Regions from separate parts of the Homo sapiens genome. Here all the other regions are linked to region 2. The links come from fine-mapping of genetic effects on gene expression. A gene starts in region 2. Each other region holds a variant in brackets. All regions are shown on one strand. Distances are between the middles of the regions.

Region 1 (8,294 bases), 130 kb before region 2:
GGTGTGGTGGCTCACACCTGTAATCCCAGCACTTTGGGAGGCCAAGGCAGGTGGATCACTTGAGCCCAGGAGTTCAAGACCAGCCTGGCCAACATGGTGAAACCCTATCTCTACTAAAAATAAAAAAAAATTAGCCAGGCATGGTGGCAGGCACCTGTAATCCCAGCTACTCGGGAGGCTGAGGCACAAGAATCGCTTGAACCCAGGAGGTGGAGGTTGCAGTGAGCCGAGATCACACCACTGCACTCCAGCCTGGGTGACAGAGTGAGACTCTGTCTCAAAAAAAGAAAAAAAAAAAAAAAAGAACTTGGCTTGTAATCCAAGATCTCTAAGTTTGAATGAGTTGTCATTTCTCCCCTAATTGTTTTTCGTTACTGTCAGTTGATAATGTTCAGCCAGAAGATAGGTACTGTCATGTTTTCCTGGTGAGATTATAGATTGCTGCAGCCTTCTCAAGAAAGCAGTTTGGTAATATAAATCAAGTGCCTTAAAGTTCATACACTTGGCTCCAGTAATTCCATTTTTTAAGAATATATCCTAGAAATATATGCAGAAATGTTTTGCCCAAAAATCTGCTTGCAGCAGCTTTTTATTTATTTTCCCTCTTTTTAAAAAAAAATACTGGTGTATGAAAATCAATCTCCAACCATGTGCTCCTTACTGCTCCATCCTTAGTACTAGCATAATGCCTGATATATACAGGTGGTCAAAAGGTATTTGTGAGTTTAAAGGAAGGATATGTTCATACAAAGGAATATTCTATAACCATATTTTTGAAATGTATATTTAAAGATATAGAAAAATGCTCAATAAAATATTAAAAATGGAGTACACACGATTGTATATCTGGAAGACTCTGTGTGTATGTTGTATAAACTCTGGATGATAGGATTACAGGCGATTTTCTACATTTTCTGTGTACTCTTCCTCAGTCATTCAGTACATATTTATTCATATGTGTGATAGGCACTGAGAATGTTTCTTAACAGGAAGACCACATAAACTTTCCCTCATGGAGTTTATAAGAGCAGAGGTTGAATAAATAATTACAAGTGCATCATTTACTTTAGTAAACTTATGTTACTTTTTATATTCTAGAAGGAAAACCTGTATGATGATTTTAAAGCATTGATGATTGTTTGTAATTTCTAAGACATTCTTTTAGGACAAGAAAGGGATGATTTTAAGAAAACTCCAAATCTCATACAGTATGAATTACCTTTCCAATGGAAAGAAAAATGTTTAGGTTTCCCATCTGTTGGATGGTTAATAATGACATAACAGTAAATACATCCAGATTTTTTCACCCCAAATAGCATTTTCTTAAAGGAAACTGAATAGGATATGTTGGTGAGGTGGAGGTAAGAGTTGTGAGAAGCTTTAGAAAAGCATAATTAAGCCTTCAAATGAACTGGCTGCGGTTGGAGGAATGAGAATGTTGATCAGCATTAATATAAAAATACATGTTTTTCGCTTTTTCCATGTACTCGTAGGGTTTCAAGTATTTGGAAAACCAAGAACATCAATAACAAAACCCACCCTGTAGCTTGAGTGTGACCCTAAAAGCTGCTTTTAACCAGGATGAGTGATGGAAAATTTTATCCTTAGCCCTGGTTTTGGGGGGTGTGTTTTGTTTTGTTTTGAAGAAAACCCTGAGTAAATCAAAAGGGCTACAGAGATGTGTTTGGGTAACTTAACCACGCTTAATGACTAGGAAGGCACTCTTCTAAACAGTCTGACCTGTGTTTCCACTGTTGCTTATCCATTTATCAACTGGAGCCTTTATGCACAGCCATGTGGGTTCCTCTGGCCTTTTATCTGACTCCTAAGTGGAAACAGTCTCCATGCATCTTGCTTCAGTTGAAGGGCATCTTGCTTCAGTTGAAGGGTGGCTCTATGGTCTGTTGCCACTCTGGCCTCGAGGGAAGGATGCATTTGTGAGCTCTGTGTTGCATTAGTAGGATCCCTTGCCCTCTTTCCTGTCTGTCTCCTTCTGCAAATTAGGAATGCATCTTCTAAGTCAAAGATCTTAGAAGGAATAAATAACAAGCAGCAAAGAATGATATCACTTCTCACAGAGGGTACACTGTGTAAGGGTGTCTCCTTTGTGGACTGATTCGAGTGGCTCCCTCCCAAACGAAGGCTCACCCTTGTCTGCTTTTTGGTATGGCTAATGGTTATGTTGAATGTAATGTGTTCAAAACCAACCTGAGACTTTCTCTCATTTGAAAAGTTCAGATCTTAGGAACAGTATGTGAAATGTGATCATTGAACATCACTTTCCATCAGTGCTGATACATTTCGGAATTCTCTTTCACTTGTGAGGTGGATTCCTGCTTCATGTTTCCAGGTGGAACTATAGTGTTTACCTATTCTCTTCCACTGATCTAGCACCTCCTTCTCCCCAACAGTGTTTTTAATGTTCTAGGAGATCTTCATCTCAGAATTGCCTTCATGTTGTGGTTAAGTGTCTTTCCTTTCTACTTTATTTTATTCTCCTTAGTGTCTGTACTTGATTTGTAGATTAAGCCCATGTTGCACTCTCTGATTATGTAGAGGGTAGCAGAAATTCTTCTGCTTCTAGCTGTGTTGAACCTTGATCTGATAGCTGACTATACAGCCTAAATTAAGGAGCCTTGGACTGTCTAATCTCATGGTCAGTGCACTCCCTCCGGATATCTTTTCCCCAGTAGGACCATGTGTCTCCTCTGTCTGGATTTTTTTTTTAAATCAGAGCAGCGTTTTGCTTTTCTGAGATGGAGCTGGGCTGCAGTGAGGGCAGGGTCACCTTCCCACTGCCCTCTGGTTGTCTGAGGGGTCAAAGGTAAATGTTTTGGTGCCCACTTATTACTGGAAGAGAAAAGGTGGCAGACACAATTAAAATCAATCACTGAAACCAAAGTTATTTTAAACATTGCTTCTATCTTCTGTCTATAAAAATTATGACTATGCTTGACAAAGTTACTGCCAAAAGTTGGGGCCTGGAACTTAGACTGTTTATGCAAGTTCATGATTGTTTTGATTTTGATTTTCCTAGGGAAAATCTTTGTAAACAGTTAAGTTCTCAGAAGCACCCATACAGTAATAAACATAAACACAGTTTGCACTGAAATCAATCCTGCAGTAACCCAAATGTAACCCTTTCTACCGGAAGTGAAGCAGATGAATGAATAGACCCATCAGTTCTGCCCAGAATGGAGGTGAAGAAATCAGGAAGCTCAGATCTGTCCCAGTCTCAGCACTTGACATGCTCTTTGTTGCTGTGAGCACAGAAGTTGTTTAATGCTCCTGGTTTTCAGCTGTGGAGGAGCCACACTACCAGTTAATTGCTTTGCAGCTTATGCTCTGAAGACTCCTGAGAATATTGGACATAAATTGCTTTTGAGCTCTCTGTGTAAATACAAAGCATTTGTATCCTAAGTGTACAGGAGTCGTGATCCATCCTCAAAGATGTAAACAGCCAATCTCAGTTTGACAGCACTGTTTTGGTCAAGCCAGAGCTCCCTTTGAGAAAATCTTGCTGTTGTCTGTTCTGGAAAGAGGCAGGAATATGTCTCCAAAACTCCATAGTAGCCATGAGAAGAATTGAGACTATAGGTGCCAATTAGTAAATTAGCATACATTGTGAAAAGGTGAAGGAAGTCATCGCATCAAATCTTGGTTAAAAGGACATTTTTCCCACACTGAGTATGTCAAAATGTAGAGCACAACATCAGTCAGATGTAAAGAATTCTTGTACAGGTGACTTTTATTTCCTTCTTAGGCCAGAATGGGCTTTTCTGCATTTTGGATTATGATGATGACACTAATAGCTAGCACTTACTGCATGCCAATCTTCAAGGGATTTACACATATTCTATCAATGGAGGCTCACCATAGCCCTAGGTGGCAGTCACTGTCATCCTCCCCATTTTACAAATGAGTAAGTCAGGGTACAGAGAGATGAGGTAACTTGCCAACAGTCAAGCAGCTGCCAAATGACAGAGCTATATATGGATTCCCACAGTCTGGCTGAGCAGAGGTTTCCATTTTTTTTTGACCTCTGTCAGGTTCTGTTGCATCTTGATTACACAGGCAAAACATTTATTACAACAAATGCTGTTTTCTAGGAAGAGAATGGAGACTACACATATGTGGAAAGAGTGAAGATACCCTTGGATCATGGGACCTTGTTAATCATGGAAGGAGCGACACAAGCTGACTGGCAGGTGAGGATCTGCAAGTAATATGAATCTGCTTTCATGTGGAGGCAGTTTCCTGACTCTGAGGACTATTTCTAAGTAGACATGGTGAAAAGCAAGCTGCTTTTACAACGAGCAAGAGGGAATGAGCTGACATTCTTTCCAAGGAGTTTTGCTACTACTGACAATCCAGGTGGACACTAGTGTGTCCGGTAGAACTTTCTGTGATGATGAAAGTGTTCAGTATCTGTGCTGCCTATTGTAGTAGTCACTAGCCACATATGACTGACTTCTTAAAATGTGGCTTGCATGCTATAAAGAACTGAGTTTTTAATTTAATTTTAATTAACTTAAATTTAAATAGCTTCAGGGTAGCTAGTGACTATCTTATTGGAATACACAGCTCTGCAGCTAGGCCATGCCATTTTTAGGCCAGATCATTTCTAAGGTGCACATGTTAATGTCAAAACACTTACCATAAGAATGGAATCTCATGCCTCTCTTTGGTCTCATCCATTTATATGTTTTATGAGATTTGGGAAATGGCAGGTGTCTGAGAGGAACAGCAACAATTAGAAAAGATGAAAATATCTCACTTCAGAGGTGCTGGCATAGCACAGTGGGGCTGGGGATGGAAATTTGTTTCAAAGAAGGGACCTTTCTCCACAAGACTTCAAAGAGCTTACTACTCATTTAAGGGGGATGAGATGGAAATATTTCTGCATTCTCATGAATAAGTTTTAAGTCGCTTTGAACTAAAAGTGTGTATGTGTGTATTTATGTCAGAGTTA[T/C]GTGTATTTCCATTTAGCATCGAGTGCCCAAAGAATACCACTCTAGAGAACCGAGAGTGAACCTGACCTTTCGGACAGTCTATCCAGACCCTCGAGGGGCACCCTGGTGACGTCAGAGCTTTGAGAGAGAAGCTTCACTGAAACGGAGCAAACCTTCCACTGAGAAGCCACTTCAAGAGGCTGGTGCTGCTAGATCTCATGATGTGGCTGTTGGGAAGATGGTGGGGTTTGTTTGCCAGCTTGGAGTCCTATTAAATGAAAGCCAGCAACTCATGTTGGTAATAGGTCTACTGTGGGAACAGTTATCCCTAACCACAGCTCAAAATCGCTATCATCTTTAGGCAAATTAAAATCTATGTGGCAGTGCTCATGGATGATTTTGTTCTAAGCAGTTTTCCTCCTGCCCTCCCCCGCCCCCCACACGCCCCGCCTTCATTTGAAGAAATATCAATGGACTTGTGCCTCTGGGGAAAAGAAAATCTCACGTGTTTGTTCCTTGTGACTTCAGTGAAGTGGAGATATAAATATGCGTCAGGGACTCTGGAGCCTTCCGTAGGCAGACAGCTGCTGAAACCCAAACAGAGGTGGTTTCATCTTGGCTTGCATACTATTGTAATGGAAAGCTACATATTCAGGGAACACTGTAACTGAGTCTTCCTGCAACACACTCAAGACAGGTTACAGGCCTCCAAATAAAGAGTGGTGGCAGTATGCTCTCGTCTAGCCACCTTCAAGTAGTCACCTGTAATACAAGAGAAAACTGTCCCCTTAAAGGGAGGAATCACTGAATGATGTCACGGGAAGTAGCAGGCTGAAATTGAGGCTGAAGAGCAGCAGAAGGCCTGCTCATGACAGCTGTTCCACATAGATTATTTTCCCCTCGGGAATCACTTGAGTCATCTAGACCCAAGTCAGATAGAAGTGGGAGCAGCCCTGCAGGGAATGCACTCAATTGCCTAATAGTTCTCGTCACCTTGTGTTTCAGTAGCCCTATGACTAACGCTCTCTTCTGACTCAATGTTTTCTTACATACAAGGTCCCAAGGTACAAGGGTTAGTCTGTGATGTCACTGAGGTTCCCAAAACAAAACAGAGTGGCTGCCCATTGTTGCATCATAAAACCACGTGTCTTCTTGACCTCTTGACTCAGGAGCCGTGTACCAGATTCATTCCAAACCAAGATACAGAAAACCTGAGAGAAAGGAAATGAATTTAAATGGATGAAAATAGGGCGGGAGAGTTAGAGTTTCTCTGTCTGCCAGTGGGGGAAAGGTACAGTGCCTTCTTGCTTTTTATCCTGTTTCCATTCCAGGCTGTAAGATTGATGCTGTCCATGATCATAGGAAAATGCCAAAGGCTGGGCATGCTCTGACTCGGCACTCAGATGGAGCACCATGCCTGGCCAGGCTGTTCTCTGACAAGCTCTCTGGCTCCTGGCATTGTAGTCCCCCTGCCCTTTTAAAAAACAAAAAACAAACAAACAAAAAATGAGCACGGCTTGTTTCTCTAAGAAATATGAAATACTTTCTAAAATTTGAGCACCACACCAAGCTTTCCTGTGAGGGAGGTTCAAATCACCATAGGAATAAAATAAAGCCTCTTTTCAATGCTTAGCTGTTCTCCTATTAATGCAAATAATACCTGGCCAGGTGATACAGCCAGCTTTGGTGATCAGTTTGATGCATGACACTAGGAAATTTATCTTCCATTCCTTACTAATGAAAGAACTGGCAGATGGTTCCAAGTCTTCCAGCGTCCCTCTTTCTTAATGGAGGGTCATGATCTCCCCGTGTGGCAGCTGTGCATTTGATCTCTTCACTTGTCACACCCATGTCTTCCAGGGAAACATTTCTACTCTACAGCAGATGGAGTGGGCCACCACCTGGGTTTCTTGGTCTGAGAGCAGCAAATCTTCAGTTTTGTTTTTCTTGCTGTCACTCCAGATACCACATGCCAGAACTGCCCTTTTCTTTACCATTAAGATAATGTCCCTTCTGAAATGGCAAGTAGGTACTTGCCATAGAGTAAAACTACAGGGTGTAGGCATGGACAGGAATTCCAGACCATGGCAAAGGGCAGTGTGCCTCAGTGACTGCAGCAGCCTGTTGCTTTGTTTTGCTGGTGCTAGATCTGAACTAGGAATTAGAGGTGAAGCTGTTTTTGCTTACATCGCGTGTAAAGCTGAGGAAGCAAATATAACAGCGGTAGCATGAAGAAAAACAGGTTTCGGTTTTGTTTTTGCTGCCCTTCTTCTGAGCTTCAGCAGGCACTGTCCTAGGAGCTTTTATACATAATCCCTTATCCTTCCCACAGCGCTGCAAGAGAGAGGTCCTATTCCCATTGTAGAGGCTAGGAAACTGATCTCCAAGACGTTAGGTAAGTTAACAGGGCTTGTAGTGGCAGAACCAGATTGCAGACTGCAGGCTAGTTTCTCGGCCTGTTTGGTTTCCCTTTGCCATGCTGAATGTAGGCGAAATGGTCTGCTGAGCACTCCCGGGAGCCTGAGCCTCAGGGCTGGCTCCTGTGGAGCTGGTCACAGCTGACCACAGGCCACCTGTTTGTTCCCTGACTTTCCTGTTCATCAGGGCAGGCATCTGCATCTCATCTTTCCTTAATCAGCATCAGCATCCTCTAGCCAGAAACTGCTGGTGACTGGACTAGCAGTTGCCCATTTCATTGGGGAAGCTCCTTTTGAGGGGACAGAATCCAACTTCTGGTGAGTTAGACAAATTCTCAGCCAACTTTCCTTGATTTTCTGGCAAGTGTTTCCTGACCATATCCACCTTCAGAGATATGAAACTTTTAGAGACAGATAAGTTTTCCCCGGTGGTCCTTTCTCACCTCATTCTTACCTGTGAATACACTTGGGGACCCTGAATGACACCCAAACTCATAGCAGGCTTTTTCACAATACTTACCAACACCATTACTCCAGTCAGCAGCCCAAAGAAACATCAGGCTCCACACTAAAAATGTCTTCTTTATAACAGGCAACTTGCTTCAAACATGGGTTGGAACACACACTTAGCACCAGATTGCATCCCCAGTGTTGAAATCAGGATCCACATTGATCCATCATTAACCCACTAGCTCGGGTGGCATTGACAATTCCTGATAAGTTTGAGTCACAGCTAATAAACCTGCCCTTTCCTTGTGGCACCCACTCTCTGCCTCTGTGGCTGATGTGATCCTGCCCTAGTGCGTGGCAGGTCTGTCTGGACACAGTCACTATAGAGCCGTCTCCTGAATTGTGTCATTGCAATGCTGAAAGAGTTAAGTAGGCCCTGCAGTGCGCTGAATGCTCCAGTTGGAGGGTTTCAGAG
Region 2 (8,294 bases):
TGAGGCCCAACCCCATCCTGGTCTTTCCACTGGAAAGGCTAGCATTTAAAATAAAGTTGTTGACTGGGTGCAGTGGCTCACACCTGTAATCCCAGCACTTTGGGAGGCTGAGGTGGGCAAATCACTTGAGCCCAGGAGATTGAAACTGGCCTGGGCAACAAGGTGAGACCTGGTCTCTACAAAAAATACAACAAAATTAGCTGGGCATGGTGGTGTGTGCCTGTGATACCAGTTACTCGGGATGCTGAGGTGGGAGGATTGCTTGAGCCTGGGAAGTTGAAGCTGCATTGAGCTCTGATTGCACCATTGCACTCCAGTCTCGGTGACAGAGTGAGACCCTGTCTCAAAAATAAACGTATTTAGCTATTTATATTCTAGCAGAGACTTAGTTCGCTATAGCTACATTTTAAATCTATTTAAGTCTGATAAGATTCATAAGTATACCGTTTGAGCTTGGACAAATGGCTATCACCATCTACCTACCACTCCATCAAATAGAGATCACCTCCATTTCCCTAGAAAAGTTCCTTGGGCCCCAGTGCAGTCAGTTTCCTACACGCCTCCCCTGGCAACCACTAGTCTGAGGAATTGGTATTGCCTGTGGAAATACTGATCCTGTGATGGTCACAAGATTCTAAGTGGAGTTATTTTCTTTCAGTACATTGAAAATGACATCCCACTGTCTTCAGGTTTCCACTGTTGATGAAGTTAGCTTTTGATCTGTTATTCCTTGAAAGGTACATTTTTTTCCTGGATTGCTTTTGAGATGTTATCTTTGTCTTGTTTTTTGTAGTTTCACTATATAGTGTAGATTTCCTTATCCCAGTTAGCATTTGGACTTCTTGAATCCATGCTTTGATGTCTAACTATCTAGCACTGAAGATACAGCTTATTCAAATGATTTTTGTCCCATTTTCTCTTCTTTTGGGACTCCAAAAAAATACATCTGTGTGTGTATTAGATTTTTTCATATTCTCTTACTTTCTCTTGTCTTCATGCCTTATTCCAGAAAGCTTCTTCAGCCTCTTCTTCCAGGTTAGTAATTTTATCTTTAGAGGTTTTAAATTTTTGGTCTTTATATTGTAACCTCTGGGGATCTCCTGTTTTCCTTCAAATCTGTTATTTTAATAAATTTTAATTTTCTTTCCATTTTTAAACTTGGATTTTATCTCCTTCAACAGAAAAGCAATTATTTTATAATCTACTCCCAATAGCTGGAGACCAGTTGGTCTTTCTCTTGTCTGTGCTGGTGGTTTTAGGTCATGCTGTTTATTTATGTACCTGATTTTCTATATGCTGGACACAATATTTTAAAAATGCTTTGAGAAATATACTCTATGGTAGCAGCTTCCAGAGTGTTTGCTTACTTCTACCTGGAATTTTGAGTCACCAAAATACGGTATGATTTAACCCAATCTCAGAACTTGAGACTTTCTGGGTATTATGTGACATGAAGCCAGGCTGGAGTTCATGCAAGGACTGGTTTTCTACTAGTTCACTCTGCTTCCTAGGGCTAAAATGGGAGGCTTGGGGTTTAAATCCTGGCTCTAATGTGAGACCCTAGAAGGTACTTATCTTCACTGGGCTTCAGTTTCATCACATTCTTCTCATCTTACATACGGAGAAACTGATGCCCAGACAGGGGAAGTAATTCTTCCAACATCCTACAGTTAGTGAGCAGCAATTATAGAATAGAGCCTAGGCCTGTCAAGGGTACTTCTACTTGAGCTTTCAATTTTGCACCTTGTATTTAGGGATCTATATCCCCAAATAACTTGCTTCCCCTTACATGCACATGAAGACGATTCTGCAATCCCTATCATACTTGCCATACCCAGAAGGAAGAATCTGAATTAGGTGAGAGTACTGAGACACCAGAGGAGGCTGGTGTGTGGCAAGAAGAAGGAAGGCTGGAAGAGTTATAAGGGCTTGTAGGGCACTAGAAAAAGTGATATTAGAAGTATCCTTCTGTAAACAGTATAGCCATGTGCTGGCATCAAAAGTGAACTGCCAGCCTGTTCCCACTTCATTTCCCACATTCATTTCTCCTTCCCAACTTCTGTTCATGATCTGTCTTTCAGCTCTTGTCAAAAGGCTGCTAGCATCTACTGGGCTGATCCTGGGATACTGGTTCTAGCTGCTAGAGAAGGCCCCCGGGTGAATGGAAAGGTAGATGGTGGGAGGCTGACGAATACTGAAACCAATGGTATAGCCAAGGAGACTTGAGGAGAGGATTGGTATACCCCCGGTACCAGACAACTTAGGGCTGAGGAATAGGGGCATTGTTGCCTTTGTGGAATGGTGTCATTTACAATAGACTTTTCCCATAGAAAGATGAGTCTTGGCAGAAGTCCAGCTTCTAGGTTTACTCCTGGCCTTGCTGCATACTCACTTTGTTATCAGAGAACACATTTTTGGGACCATGCATGGTGGCTCCTGCCTACAATCCTAGCACTTAGGGAGGCTGAGGCGAGAGGATCACTTGAGCCCAGGAATTTGAGACCAACCTGGGCAACATGATGAAACCCCATCTCTACAAAAGATACACAAAAATTGGCTGGGTGTGGTGGAATGTGCCTGTAGTCCCAGCTACTCAGGAGGCTGAGGTGGAAGGAACGCTGGAGCCCAGGAGGCAGAGGTTGCAGTGAGCCATGATTGCACCAGTGCACTCCAGCCTGGGCGAGAGAGTGAGATTCTGTCTCAAAAACAAACAACCCCCCCCACAAAAAAACCAAAACATTTTTACCAGGAAAACGCATTACTTTCAGTTACCTGCCTTGGCCCCCATGTTTGCTATATAAATCTGCCCTGGGGGGTTCTCATTCAAACTACTTTAAACAAGTTTCCTCCTCCATTTGCCTACTAGGCCACACTGGCCTCCAGCTTCCCTGCCGCATCCTGGTCCCTATTTCCTATGTGCCTGGAGTCCCCGGCTGAGTGCTTGGTATATGGGGCAGACTAGTGGGACTTTGGTAACAGCAAGGACTTCCATGGCAAGAAGTCTAAGAGCCCCTAATTTAACTGAACTGGAATAACTAAAATTCTGGGACCATGGGCTGAGCTGGCTGATGTTACAGAGCTGTCCAAAGAGCTGTCCCATCTTTGACTTTGTTGTTAAGGTGACACAGGGCAAAGATACTCAATGTGTAATTCCAGTCCTGGGAAAAGGAAGAAGATGCCTGGTGACAATAGCTTCTTGTTCATTGGAGGGAGGTTACCACCCCGATCTTGGCTCTTTCCACTAGCACTCCGCAGGACCAACAGGGATGATAGGCACCACCTTTTGGAAGGCAAAACCAAAGGAATCTCACCTGGCCCTTGCAATGCTCTATGATAATCAAGTATTTGGAAAGATAGTGTGACTTACCTACAGAGTTGAGAGCCCCATTAAAATGAATCTCTTCTAGGACAGGGAATTTGGGCCAGGGCAAAGTTCTTGCTTGTGGAAGAGACGGTTTCTCTAGGCATAAACACTTATATTTGTTCAATTTCTTTCTCATCAGTATGTTCCTAACACTGAATAAAGTTTTTGCATTATGATTAAAGGTTGGGATCGTAAGTCAAGACTTGATACAGCTTTGTTCTGTGGCTTTCTCTGTCTATTGCTCCATCTTCCATGGCCAAAGTCTTCATTTATGGCTCATCTCTTCCCTGACTTGGCAACATCCTTGTGGTTATGCCTCTCCTACTCATTAACTATGTTAGTTGCCCATGTGCCAAGGTACTGTGCTAAGAATGTAATACTGAAGGCTGACCTGGGCAGACACTGAACAAGTAACAATATTAAATGTCACTAAGGTGAGGTATAGGTTGCAATGGGAACATCACAGGCAAACTGAACATGGTTTGAAGAAGTTGGACAGAGTGTTTGGTACTCTGAAGTACTGGTGCCCTAAATTTATAAAAGAAGCAACGAGGTTTTTTTTTGTGTTTGTGTGTGTGTAGGGGGATGTTACTTAGGGGGAAAAACTTGGAATTGTAGCATTTGGTGGAATGGGCATAGGTCTAGATTTTTAGAAAAAAGGGTCTTGATATCTTGGGATATAAGGATTGTCTTAAAGAAGTAGTGGCAGCTGTTGGCCTCAAGCTTTCCTACCTTCTGGGATCTTGCTATCTGATTTATTGATTCTTTGAGGCTTTAAAAGGTATTTTTTGGTCTCGTTCAGTATTTAACTTGTTTTCAAAAGGAAGGTTAATCCTAATCGTTGGAAGTTTGTTGCAGTAAGCCATAATCATGCCACTGCAATTCAGTCTGAGTGATAGAGCAAGACCCAGTCCCTCCAAAAAAAAACAAAAACAAAACAAAACAAAATTGCTAAGTATAGTCCCAGGAACTTGCTAGAAATGAGGATTCTCAGGTCTCACCCCAGACATACTGACTCAAAATTCAGGGGTGAGGTCTCACCATCTGTTTCCTACCACGCCCTCCAGGTGATTCTGATGGACTTCAAAGTTTGAGAGCCATGTACCTAGCCCATAGTTACAAGTGATGGAAGCCTAAGGCAGCTGTCACAGTGAGTAGGTGGAAGGCATTTGCAGGAAGCCAAGTGAGGATAGAGGAACTGAGGAATCTAAAGGCTTTGAGTATCTGGTATGGCCAACCTGGAGAAGAAAAGGCAAAAAGAAGGGCTGATGTTCTTCAACAGGGCTTGGCAAACCTTTTATGTAAAGGGCCAGACAGTTAATATTTTAGGCTTCGTGGACCACATGGTCTCTGTCACGTGGTCTCTGTCATGACTATTAAACTCTGCCATTGTAACACAAAAGCAGCCATAATCAAGACATAAATAAATGAATGGGGCTGTGTTCCAATAAAACTATCTACAAAAATAAGTGGCAGGCCAGATTTGGCCCTCAGGCATTAGTTTATTCTAGCAGAATGTTTTACTCAGTGGGTAGTGATGGTGATTGTTTTTGAGCAGTAGAAACCCTTTTTTCCTATTTAACCAAACAAAGCAGGAAGTGCTCAGGTTGAAGAACGGGGTGGAAAATCCAGAGCCTCCTTGTTCATATCCCCCTGCTCTTCCTCAGAACACATCCTAATGCCATTTAAATAGAGCACTCAGTGTCTAGGCTTGAGGCCATGTACTCATTGCCCTAAAGAGTAGGTAACTCTTCATGAACCAATCTGGTCATATAACCAAGGCATGGAAGTGAGAAGAACAGATCTGAGATCTGTTCTGTCTCCATCCATTCCTGGACCTGAGGGTCCAGGAGATCCTCCTTTGCTCCATTGTCAATGGTCTCTTTCTCCATAGGTGCCAGGCAGCCTTCAGAGGCCAGTAAAGATACCCGGAGTATGAGTCATCGGTCAGACACCCTTCCTGTGCCCTCTGGTCAGAGGAGAGGCCGGGTCCCCAGAGACCACAGCATCTATACCCAGCTGTTGGAGATAACGCTGCACTTGCAGCAGGCCATGACGGAGCACTTCGTGCAGCTGACGAGCAGACAGGGCCTGTCGCTGGAGGAAAGGAGGCACACTGAGGCCATCTGTGAGCATGAAGCCCTTCTGAGTCGCTTAATATGCCGGATGATCAACCTCCTACAGTCTGGGGCCGCGAGTGGCCTGGAGCTCCAAGTGCCTCTTCCTTCTGAGGACTCTAGGGGTGATGTCAGATATGGGCAGAGGGCCCAACTCTCTGGGCAGCCTGATCCAGTTCCCCAACTGAGTGATTGTGAAGCTGCCTTTGTCAACCGCGACCTATCCATCCGTGGGATTGACATCTCTGTCTTTTATCAGTCGAGCTTCCAGGACTACAATGCCTACCAAAAAGATAAATATCATAAGGACAAGAACACCTTGGTGAGAATTTGGGGTGGGGGGTGGGCAGCATCCTCACGGGCTCCAGTCACTTGGATTTACTGAGTCCTGGGCCAAGTGCTATATATGCTCTCATTCTTTATAGCCTTATGAAACGGGCACTCTTGTCATCTTGCAGATAAGGGAATAATTACAGAAATAAAGTGACATGCCCCAGAAAGTTAGAGAACTCCATCCACCCCCACATCCCTCCCTCTCCCTAATCCCAGCTCTTAATTATTAGGAGTTGGCCCCTGTGGTCACAGGGACAAATGAGCCTGCCGTTAAAGAACTTAGCGTAGTGATGAATGGAGTCAGCCACTGGGGCACAGGCATTAATAATCTTCCCAAGAACGTGAAAGGGATGCCCACTTCAGGTGGTCTGGGAAGAGGTCTTAAAGGCTGAATCAGCCAGCCATGTGGTGATGGCCATGGCCATGACCCTCCAGGCAGGAGGAACAGCACACGTGAAACCTTCAAGATGCGAAGGGCTAGGAGTGATTGGGAAAGGAGGTCCAATGGCCAGAGTAGGGACCACTGGTGCTGTGGCAGGAGGTGTGAACAGAGGTGGATGGGAGGTGTTAAGATGTTACCCTAAGAGGCTGGGCGTGGTGGCTCATGCCTGTAATCCCAGCACTTTGGGAGGCCAAGGTTGGTGGATCGCTCAAGTCCAGGAATTCGAGACCAGCCAGGGCAACATGGTGAAACCTCATCTCTACAAAAAATACAAAAACTAGCCAGGCGTGGTGGCACACACCTATAGTCCCAACTATCTGGGAAGCTAAGGTGGGAGGATCACTTGACCCCGGCAGCTGGAGGTTGCAGTGAGCTGAGATCGCGCCACTGCACTCCAGCCTGGGTGACAGAGTGGGACCCTGTCTCAAAAAAAAAAAAAAAAAAAAAAAAAAGGAATGTTACCCTAAGGGCGATGGGGAACTGATGAAAGGCTTCCAGGAAAGGGGGTCCTTAGCAGCTCTCCAGCCAGAGGGTGGAGGGTGACATTAGCTATACCTTCCCCTTCTGTTCCTATCTCTGTTCTCCTCTAATAACTTAGAAGGCCCTAATGTGTAAGGAGAAGTAGCAGAGGTAGGTGCCAGATGGGGCCTTGGGGATTAAGGGTCCAGGCTCAGGCGTCAGGTAGGTAGAGTTCTACTTTTCACCCAAGGTCACATGGCTAGTAGGCTATTCAACTTTTCTAAACTTCACTCTTTAAACTGGATTATATAGAACCTTCTTTTCAGGAATTAAGACAACTCACAAGAAGCACTTGGTCTAGTATCTGGTACATAATAAGAACTCAATGACTGGTCGATAGGACATAACTTATTTATGTGGCTCTAATGGGGAAATTTGCAAGCTGTACTATTTTGGGTTCATGGAAAGCTTTCCTAACGTGTAAAGTTGTCAAATTTGGATTGAATTGCCTCATAGGCAGTGAGATCTCCATTTGAACTAATGTTTCAAGGGATCTATGTAGGGTGGAGCAAGAGGACTGACCTGATCTTGGATTCCTTCCATCTCCAGGGTTTCATTAACCTTGGCACCAGTGAGAACAAGCTCTGCATGGATCTGATGACTGAAAGAGTAAGGATGTTCTGGGCTGTGTTGGGACCCACCCCTTCAAGGCTTAGTCCCCCTAGCGTGCTCCTGAGCTATGGTAGATACAGGGGTGAGACATAGGAGCCTGGGAAGAGGAGTGAAGAAATAGCTTCTAGAATAGCACATTTAACCTCCTGGCTTTGCTGACTGTCCAGAGATATTCTCTGATTAGGTATATGGTGGGAAAGTTGCTATGGGAACCTCTGGGTCAAATACTTCCCAGTGAGGTATCTACTTGTGTAATTTATGACAAGATGGTAGCCTCCATTCATTAAGGAGCATGCAGTGTATATACCCATTCCCTTTCTAGGAGGTCATGTATGTGGAGGGCAAACACTCATGTACAAACTAGGAGTAGAATGAGGCCTCTTGAACTTCCCTGGCCTACCTGTCTTCATGTTCTATTTGTCAACAGTTGCAAGAAAGTGACATGAACTGCATTGAGGACACCTTGCTTCAGTACCCTGATTGGAGAGGGCAGCCATTGTAAGTGACCTTCAGATTTAGAGTCTCTTGGTCCCACAGGCAGCTGTCCTTATCCAGAAGGAGGATTCAAGGCACCAAATTCCTGGTTGGTTACCTCCCTATCTCTTTGGGTAATAACTTCTAGAAAATGCCTAGAGCAAAACTTCATCAGGAGGCAGCCTGGTATAGTAGGAATAGTTATTCTGGTATAGTAGGAATAATTCAAAAGGCCTGAGTTCTTTTTTTTTTTTTTTTTTTGAGATGGAGTCTCACTCTGTCACCCAGACTGGAGTGCAGTGGTGCTATCTCAGCTCACTGCAGGCTCTGCCCCCTGGGTTCAGGCCATTCTCCTGCCTCAGCCTCCCGAGTAGCTGGGACTACAGGTGCCCGCCACCACGCCCAGCTAATTTTTTGTATTTTTAGTAGAGAC
Region 3 (8,294 bases), 170 kb before region 2:
AAAGACACCAGCAATGAGGTCCCAAGAAATGGTTCATGTCATTTTAGGAACAGTCCTATCTTTCCTAATTTGGCTTTCATTCTGGCATGTATTTGCAGAGAGGTGGCACGGTGGCATCATGTGGCATTGTGGTTCAGTCTTCTTTGTAAAATGGGTCTAATAATAATAATGCCTGTGTAACTGGGTTCTTAAAATTAGATCAGTGGGCCGGGCGCGGTGGCTCACGCCTGTAATCCCAGCACTTTGGGAGGCCGAGGCGAGTGGATCATGAGGTCAGGAGATCGAGACCATCCTGGCTAACAAGGTGAAACCCCGTCTCTACTAAAAATACAAAAAATTAGCCGGGCGCGGTGGCGGGCGCCTGTAGTCCCAGCTACTCGGGAGGCTGAGGCAGGAGAATGGCGTGAACCCGGGAAGCGGAGCTTGCAGTGAGCCGAGATTGCGCCACTGCAGTCCGCAGTCCGGCCTGGGCGACAGAGCGAGACTCCGTCTCAAAAAAAAAAAAAAAAAAAAAAAAAAAAAAAAAAAAATTAGATCAGTGTAGGCATGTAAGTGATTGGAACAGCACTTGGCATGTAAGAAGTGCTCATGAAATGTTAACTAATGTTATTATTTGCTATTATTTAGAAATAAGAATGTGTAAATGTTGCCTACTCCTTTTAGGGATAATGTAACTATCAGAATATCTTCAAGCTGTCTGAATGCTACATAATTTAAAACCTTGACATAATTCCCTATACTCCATAGTGACTTTGCTAATGACTATAACCTCTAGTGATCTCTTGTTCCCCAAATTTTTGTCTGCCCTCCATAATTTCACATCCAATTACACTGTTTTTTAATTGTATCTCACACAGTTTACCCTGTGGTTCACTGGATGGAGATTTTACCTCCTGCAGCATCTACAATCGTGCTGGGCATTGAACAGAAGGTGTTCCTGTCTGGAGTCTGGGGAAATGTCCTCTACCCTTCAATGTTGTTGAAAGTTGGCAGAGAGCTGAAAGCCTCATAGCAAACATGCTGCAGGGTTGGCAGATTCCCTTCCCACCCTCCTTGCTCAAGCTGGGAGCTGCTAAACCTTTGGCAGTGAGACATAGGCTGGGAATTTCTCTATGCAACACCTTCACTGAGAGCTATTAGCATGATGTGCCATTATTTTCCTTGGGTTGGATTTTCTCAGGAATACAGCAGCAGGCACTCCACAAGCTGCACATGATTGAAACAGGGAACGCTTGGCAAGAGAGTGGTGTGAAAATCGGCAACTGAAAATAGGCTACAGGGTGTAGCTCACTCAGAATCACTGTTAAGAGCTACCAGCACTTAAAGCATCTATCAGCTTTGCCATCCAGGGTATGAGATAACTGTTGAGTGGGAAGTGATCACCTCTGGAAAACAGACATAGGGAAAGGATACAGAATATGGTGCAGGTACCTGCAAAATGGAACAGAGCATTGTTAAAAATGCAAATTACTGCCAGGTGCGGGTGGCTCACGCCTGTAATCCTAACATTTTGGGAGGCTGAGGCGGGCAGATCACCTGAGGTCAGGAGTTCAAGACACAGTGAAACCCTGTCTCTACTAAAGTACAAAAAATTAGCCAGGTGTGGCAGCCAGGAGGCTGAGGCAGGAGAATTGCTTGAACCCAGGAGGCGGAGGTTGCAGTGAGCCAAGACCATGCCACTGCACTCCAGCCTGGGCGACGAAGCGAGACTATGTTTCAAAAAAAAAAAAAAAAATGCACATTGCTGGGCCCTGCCCCAGACCTACTAACTGAGAATCCTGATGGGCTCCCAGAATGTGCATTTTTACAGCATCCCCTAGTGATTCTCATGCAGTTACCCTTCCAACCACATGCTGAGAAATGCTGGCTTCAAAGTAGCAAAGCAACCAGCAACATCTACTTTAGGAAGGCAGTCTTGGATGAGGACAAACTAGGAGGAGCAAGCAATACGTAAGTGATGGGCTAGGAGAGCAAGGACCCAACTCAGAGGCAAATCAGTGATGTACAGAGGCCAACCCGGGGCCCAGGCAGTTAGCCTTTGCTTTCAACTCCTGATGCCACATTCCCACTGCAACCATCAGGACTCAATCAGGAGACAGAAGCTACATAATCATCTGGACAGGAAAGAAATAGGTCGGGCGCGGTGGCTCACGCCTATAATCCTAGCACCATGAGAGGCCGAGGCGGGTGGATCACTTGAGGTCAGGAATTCAAGACCAGCCTGGCCAACATAGCAAAATCCTGTCTCTACTAAAAATAAAAGAAAAAATTAGCTGGGCGTGGTGGTGCACATCTGTAATCCCAGCTACTCGGAGGGCTGAGGCAGGAGAATCACTTGAACCCAAGTGATGGAGGTTGCAGTGAGCTGAGATTGCACCACCACACTCCAGCCTGCCAGCCTGGGTAAAAGAGCGAGACTCTGTTGAAAAGAAAAGAAGAACAGAAAAGAAAAGAAGAAAAGAAAGAAAGAATTATTAACCATAATAGAGGGTTACTGACAAAGGGAAAAAGAGAACTCTAAGAACACAAGCGTAAGCCAAAAAGTATCCGAAACAGGTCTCCATCAATTTAGAGGTTTATTTTTGCCAAGGTTAAGAACACATCTGGAAGAAAAGAACATGGAATAACAGAAAGTCTGTGGTCTGTGCCTTTCTCCAAAGATGATTTTGAGGGCTTTAATAGTTAAAGGGGAAAAGTGTGCTGGAGGGGAAAGAGAGAGGGTCTGGTGATCCACGATACTAGAGAAAAGGAGCAGGTAGGGGAATAGTCAATTATGTATTCATCTCACACCCAGTAAATTGGCATTTTACATTAGATAGGGTGAACATAGAGGAGCTACCCATGCAGATATTTAACCTTGATCGGTAGCTCTCTGTTGGGGAACAAAAGGAAAGGCAGCTTCTTGCATGACTCAGCTTTGAGCTTAATTTTTCCTTTTGGCAGAGTGAATTAGGGTCCCGAGATTTTATTTTCCTTTCACGCTGGTGTAACAGATGCAGGGAGCAGCCTCTACCTCTAGTTTGAGGCAGAACAGCGAGGAAGAAACAACTCTGAAACAGCTCCCATCTGCCAGGGTTAAGGATCCAAACCTCGCTGGAGGAGACATGGTGGTGTTTTGCTGGATGGCGAAGTTTGCTGGCGAGCTGCACCAAGAGAACTAACTGTGGTACTGGGAAGTTGCCAAGGGGAGGCACCAAGCTCTGCTGGCCATGGTGCATGGCAGAGCTGGCTGAAAAGATGTGTTCATGTCTTAGGCCTGCCATAACAAATTACCACAAATGGGGTGGCTTAAAGGAACGAAAATCCATCCTCTCACAGTTCTGGAGACCTGAAGTCCCAAATCAAGGTATTGGCAGGAATGTGCACTCTACAGGCTCTGAGGGAGGATCCTTCCCCACCTTTTCCAGCTTCTGGTGGCTCCAGACACTCCTTGGCTTGTGGCAACATCCCTCCAAGCTCTGCTTCCACCTTCACATGGCGTCCTTGCCTGTCTTTCTCTGTCCCTCTGTCTCCAAATCTCCCTCTCCTTATAAGGACAGCAGTCATTGGATTCAGACCTGCCCTAATTCACTCTGCCCTCATCTTAACTTGATTGCATCTGGAAAGACCCTACTTCCAAATAAGGTCATGTTCACAGGTTTTGAGTGGACATAAATTTGAGGGTGGATATTATTCAACCTAGTACAGAGGAACACACAGGAACCATGGAAAAGAGCCTCTTCTGGTCAGGAGTTTGAGACCAGCCTGGCCAATAAGGTGAAACCCCGTCTCTACTAAAAATACAAAAATTAGCCGGGTGTGGTGGTGCACGCCTGTAGTCCCAGCTACTCGGGAGGCTGAGGCAGAAGAATCACTTGAATCCGAGAGGTGGAGGTTGCAGTGAGCAGAAATTGCATCACTGCACTGCAGCCTGAGTGACAGCGAGACTCTGTCAGAAAGAGAGAGAGAGAGAGAGAATAGAAGAAAAAGAGCCTCTTCCTCTTTTATAAGGGCTAATTAAAAAAATTTTTTAAAGAGCCCCTTCCCCCTTCAGGGTCTCTTCAGGACTATCGACTAATGAAGCTTACTATTGAATCAGCTAGCAAGGGAAAAATGTTCCAGTATAACAAGCAGGCAATAAAGGATGGATTTGGAGCTGAGAGTTAATAAGGATTGATGATTCAGAGTCCACTCCTTCAGCTACTCAGTTTCCATATGCACCACCCTTCTACACACATTTCAACTTCTGTAGGATCAACACAACATCTGTTTCCACCTACCAAGATACAGCTATCCTTCACAGAAGTGAAGGCGTTCTCATTGTTTCCCCCCAAATGAACTTCCAACAGTCACCATATCTACTACTGACCGTATTAAATAGTCTTCAAATTCAATCATAATCCTACTGAATGTTCTGCTACATAGAAACTAAATTGTAAATGTAACCTCCAACTACATAAATATAAAATAATGGAGAGAGAAGAACATGATTTTCATGTACAAAACACATACATATAGCTAGCAAAGAGAAAACATACAAAGCTCATACAGTCTTTGTTTCTGTTATTGGTTATAACATCACAGGTGGCTTCTTCCATATTTCCCTTGCCCTTAGCCAGAACCTCAGTTCACTGACTTCTTTACCTGACGGTACAACACAAATCTTCATTCTTAATCCAAGTTATTCATCATTCTGCTGTTTTGTTGTTGCTGCTTTTGTAGTTTTCTTTATGTTTTTTTTTTACTGGACACAAAGTACCAAGAGGCACCTGAGAAAATCCTTTTGGTTCCAGACATAGTCCTTGTGTAAGCATTCACACCCTGAGGAAGCAGACCTTCAAACCAGCACTGCTCAGTGTTGCTGGGACAGGAAGCAAGTGGGTTAATAATTATATTACTGAAGGGGGTCACTCTCATTTTCACCCTCATTCCCAGCGTCATGTATTCTGGTTAAGGGAGAAAGAGCACCATATTCTGATCTCTGATTCAAAGTATAAACTGCATCCAATAATACAGAACTCTACCCTTTCAGGGGCTG[T/C]CTCCTGATTGGGGCCATAACTAAGTCTTCAGTAAGCCACTCCATCTTTCAATTAGCCAAACTGTTTCCAATGGGTAAGAAGTTAAGCCCATTGATGTACTTCCTTTACTGTGAAATGAGTTCCTTGATCAGGGAATACCATGAAGGGGAATAAGACATTTGGTGGGTTCACAGATGGTGGTGCTGGCCAAAGCAGTACATACAAGGAAGATAAATAAACCCATATCCAGAATATGAATATATTCCAGTGAAGATGAATCTCCACCCTCTCTATGATGGAAAAGGTCCAATGTAATCAAACTGCTACAAGTGGCTGGACGGTCGCCTGACAAATGGTGACATATGGAGGGCTCAGTATTGGTCTTGGCTATTTGTAGGTTAGGTATGCAGCAGTAGCATTAGCCAGGTCAGCTTTGAGAAAAGGAAGTCCAAATTGTTGAGCCCATGCATATCCTCCATCCCTGCCACCATGACTACTCTGTTCATGGGCCTATTGGCCCATGCATGACATTACAGGTATGAGCCACCACACCTAGCTCACACATGTCTTACTAAAGCATCTAAAACACTTTCTACCTTCTGTTCACCATATCCAATCAGCACAATGTCGTCATTATTGTTGTCTAGAGTGATGTTTTGTAGGATGTCAGGATGAGAGGTGGACCTATAGTATGACAGCAGAAGAACTGAGGTATCTCTGAGGCAAGACTATGAGAGTATACTGTTGGCCATGCCAAGTAAATGCAGAATGTTCCTTTTTTTTTTTTTGAGACAGGGTCTCACTCTGTCGCCCAGGCTGGAATGCAGTGGCATGATCTCGGCTCACTGCAACCTCTGCCTCCCTAGTTCAAGCAATTCTCCTGCCTCAGCCTCCCGAGTAGCTGGGACTACAGGTGTGCACCACCACACCTGGCTAATTTTTTGTATTTTTTTTTTTTTGAGATGGAATCTCGCTCTGTCACCCAGGCTGGAGTGCAGTGGCACAATCTTGGCTCACTGCAAGCTCTGCCTCCCGGGTTCACGCCATTCTCCTGCCTCAGCCTCCCAAGTAGCTGGGACTACAGGCATCCACCACCACGCCTGGCTAATTTTTTGTATTTTTAGTAGAGATGGGGTTTCACCGTGTTAGCCAGGCTGGTCTTGAACTCCTGACCTCAGGCGATGTGCCTGCCTTGGCCTCCCAAAGTGCTGGGATTACAGGCCTGAGCCACCGCACCCAGCCAAGGCAGAAAGTTTCTTGTAAATTAATATAGAGAAAAAGGCATTAGCCAGGTCAAGAGCTGCCTACCAAAGGCAAAAGGTTATGTTAATTGCCGCAGTAAAGATAGCACATGTGGGACAGCAGCTGCATTGGAGTCATGGAGTAACTACCTGATTAAATTTACAACAGCCGACAATCACTCTTCAAGATCCGTTTGACTTCTGCACAGGCCAACAGTAAATTAAATGAGAATGAGAATGTGATAGAATTATCATCTGATTCTTTCAAGTCTTTGATTGTGGCATTAATCTTTACAATTCCTCCAGGAATGTGGTATTGCTAGTATTTACTATCTTGGTATGGAGGGGAAGTTCCTGGAGTTTCCAGGTAGCCTTTTCTACCAACTGGCCTTCACTTTGTGGGTCAGAGAGTCAATTTGGGGATTCTGCTAGTTGCCAAATATAACTAATCCAACTATAGATGGTCCCTGACTTATGATGGTTCCATTGATTTTTTGACTTGACGATAGTGGAAGAGTGGTACACATTTAGTAGAAACTGTACTTCAGTACAGTATTCAATAAATTACATGATATATCAACACTTTATTATAAAACAGGCTTTGCATTAGATTATTTTGCCCAGCTTAGGCTAATGTGAGTGTTCTGAGTATGTTTAGGGCAGGCTAAGCTAAACTGTGATGTTCCATAAGTTGGGTGTAGCAAATGCATTTTGACCTATGATATTTTCAACTTACAATGGGTTTATCAGGATAGAACCCCATCATAAGTCAAGGGAGCATCCATATACATTCAGGAACTGGGGAAGTAGCCACTGGATGGATCTGTGGATGACTGGGTCCATTGTGAGTCAAACTTGAACTAAGATTCCATCTATCACTTGAACATCATTAAGCCCTCACTTTCATTCGTGGGCCATAGAGGTGTTCTAGGTTCCCAGGAATTAGTTAAGAGCCATTGCCCAGTAAACCCTAAAATACCTGGGTACTTACTTTTCCCCAGTGTGTAACCATTTGAGTAAATGGCTGCATTCACTTGGATGAAGACTTGGGCCGGGCGCGGTGGCTCATGCCTGTAATCTCAGCACTTTGGGAGGCCGAGGTGGGTGGATCACAAGGTCAGATCGAGACCATCCTGGCTAACATGGTGAAATCCCATCTCTACTAAAAATACAAAAAATTAGCCGAGCGTGGTGGCAGGCAGCTACTCGGGAGGCTGAGGCAGGAGAATGGCATGAATCCAGGAGGCGGAGCTGGTAGTGAGCCGAGACCACGCCACTGCTCTCAGCTTGGGTGATAGAGCGAGACTCTGTCTCAAAAAAAAGACTTGGAGGAAAATTTACAGTATATACTTGTGACAATGGTGCAGGGTCCTTCCTCCAAGAGATGTGGCTTCCCTGTCAATCAAGAGGTTTGGGGTCGTGATATGACTTGTCTGGAAACTAGGTGAGAGATATGTCTATCCAGTGTGGCCAGGTAAGGTTTTTGGCTACTAGACATAGACTTTTTTTCTGTTAGATAGATCAAACAATTCTCTAGTAGGCTGCCCATCTGTTTCATTCCTAGGGACACCATGGCCACTACCAAAGATCCTTATAGACCAACATATTCTGATTACTGGTATGTCCTGGCTTCTGTATTGGATCAATGTCCTTACCTTTAATAATTAAGTGCTGCCACTTGGCCTCATCATCTCCAGTAAAACCAGGGGACCCAACTCAATGGTGGCATCTTCCATGATCACACCTGGCCTGCAAAGGAGAGCAACCACAGAGCTTTCCAAGGATGCAAGTGCTCCCTTGTCTAAAGTATTTCTCAATGCTTTAGAAAAAGGAGCATCTTCTGGATCTTGTTGTAGGATATAGTTTTTGTGTTTGTGTCTATTGCACGTGGGTCAGGGTCACATTTGATAAATTCAGTCCAACATTTCTACCCTTCTCAGTCTTTGGGTTCCCGCCTCTACATCGTGCCTTGGCATCTCAGTAGGATTAACCATAGACTACTGTTGAGTTAAATCTTCAATAAATCCACCAAATAAGCTGTTAGAGTCATTTCCAG

Alleles and levels. Alleles are on the strand shown, and positions count from the first base shown. SD is a standard deviation of normalised expression in the study named. Not every link is listed here.
With allele T in place of C in region 1, the expression in cerebellum of the gene that starts at base 5,244 in region 2 is lower (large effect, 2.2 SD a copy in GTEx).

The links. PIP is the estimated chance that this variant, and not a neighbour inherited with it, causes the effect.
Region 1: its variant is fine-mapped to the expression of ACCSL in cerebellum (GTEx, PIP above 0.99).
Region 3: its variant is fine-mapped to the expression of ACCSL in whole blood (INTERVAL, PIP 0.91).

What each region holds. Positions count from the first base shown.
Region 1 is chr11:43,914,929-43,923,222 of GRCh38, forward strand. It overlaps ALKBH3 (alkB homolog 3, alpha-ketoglutarate dependent dioxygenase), which reads left to right. Exons shown (of 10, transcript NM_139178.4): 9 at 4,110-4,208; 10 at 4,990-5,346. The coding sequence ends at 5,082. It overlaps ALKBH3-AS1 (ALKBH3 antisense RNA 1), which reads right to left and starts at 6,016. Exons shown (of 6, transcript NR_038907.1): 1 at 5,946-6,016; 2 at 5,458-5,536; 3 at 4,658-4,734; 4 at 1,741-1,993. It also overlaps a transcript of ACCSL not described here. RefSeq lists an enhancer at 5,298-6,497. The variant T/C (reference allele first, on the strand shown) is at 4,973.
Region 2 is chr11:44,042,738-44,051,031 of GRCh38, forward strand. It overlaps ACCSL (1-aminocyclopropane-1-carboxylate synthase homolog (inactive) like), which reads left to right and starts at 5,244. Exons shown (of 14, transcript NM_001031854.2): 1 at 5,244-5,803; 2 at 7,325-7,384; 3 at 7,815-7,885. The coding sequence starts at 5,300.
Region 3 is chr11:43,870,090-43,878,383 of GRCh38, forward strand. It overlaps LOC105376644 (a long non-coding RNA gene), which reads right to left. Exons shown (of 3, transcript XR_001748200.2): 2 at 7,894-7,987; 3 at 4,315-4,840. Among named protein-coding and RNA genes, the nearest start is that of ALKBH3, 6.6 kb to the right of the region's middle. The variant T/C (reference allele first, on the strand shown) is at 5,018.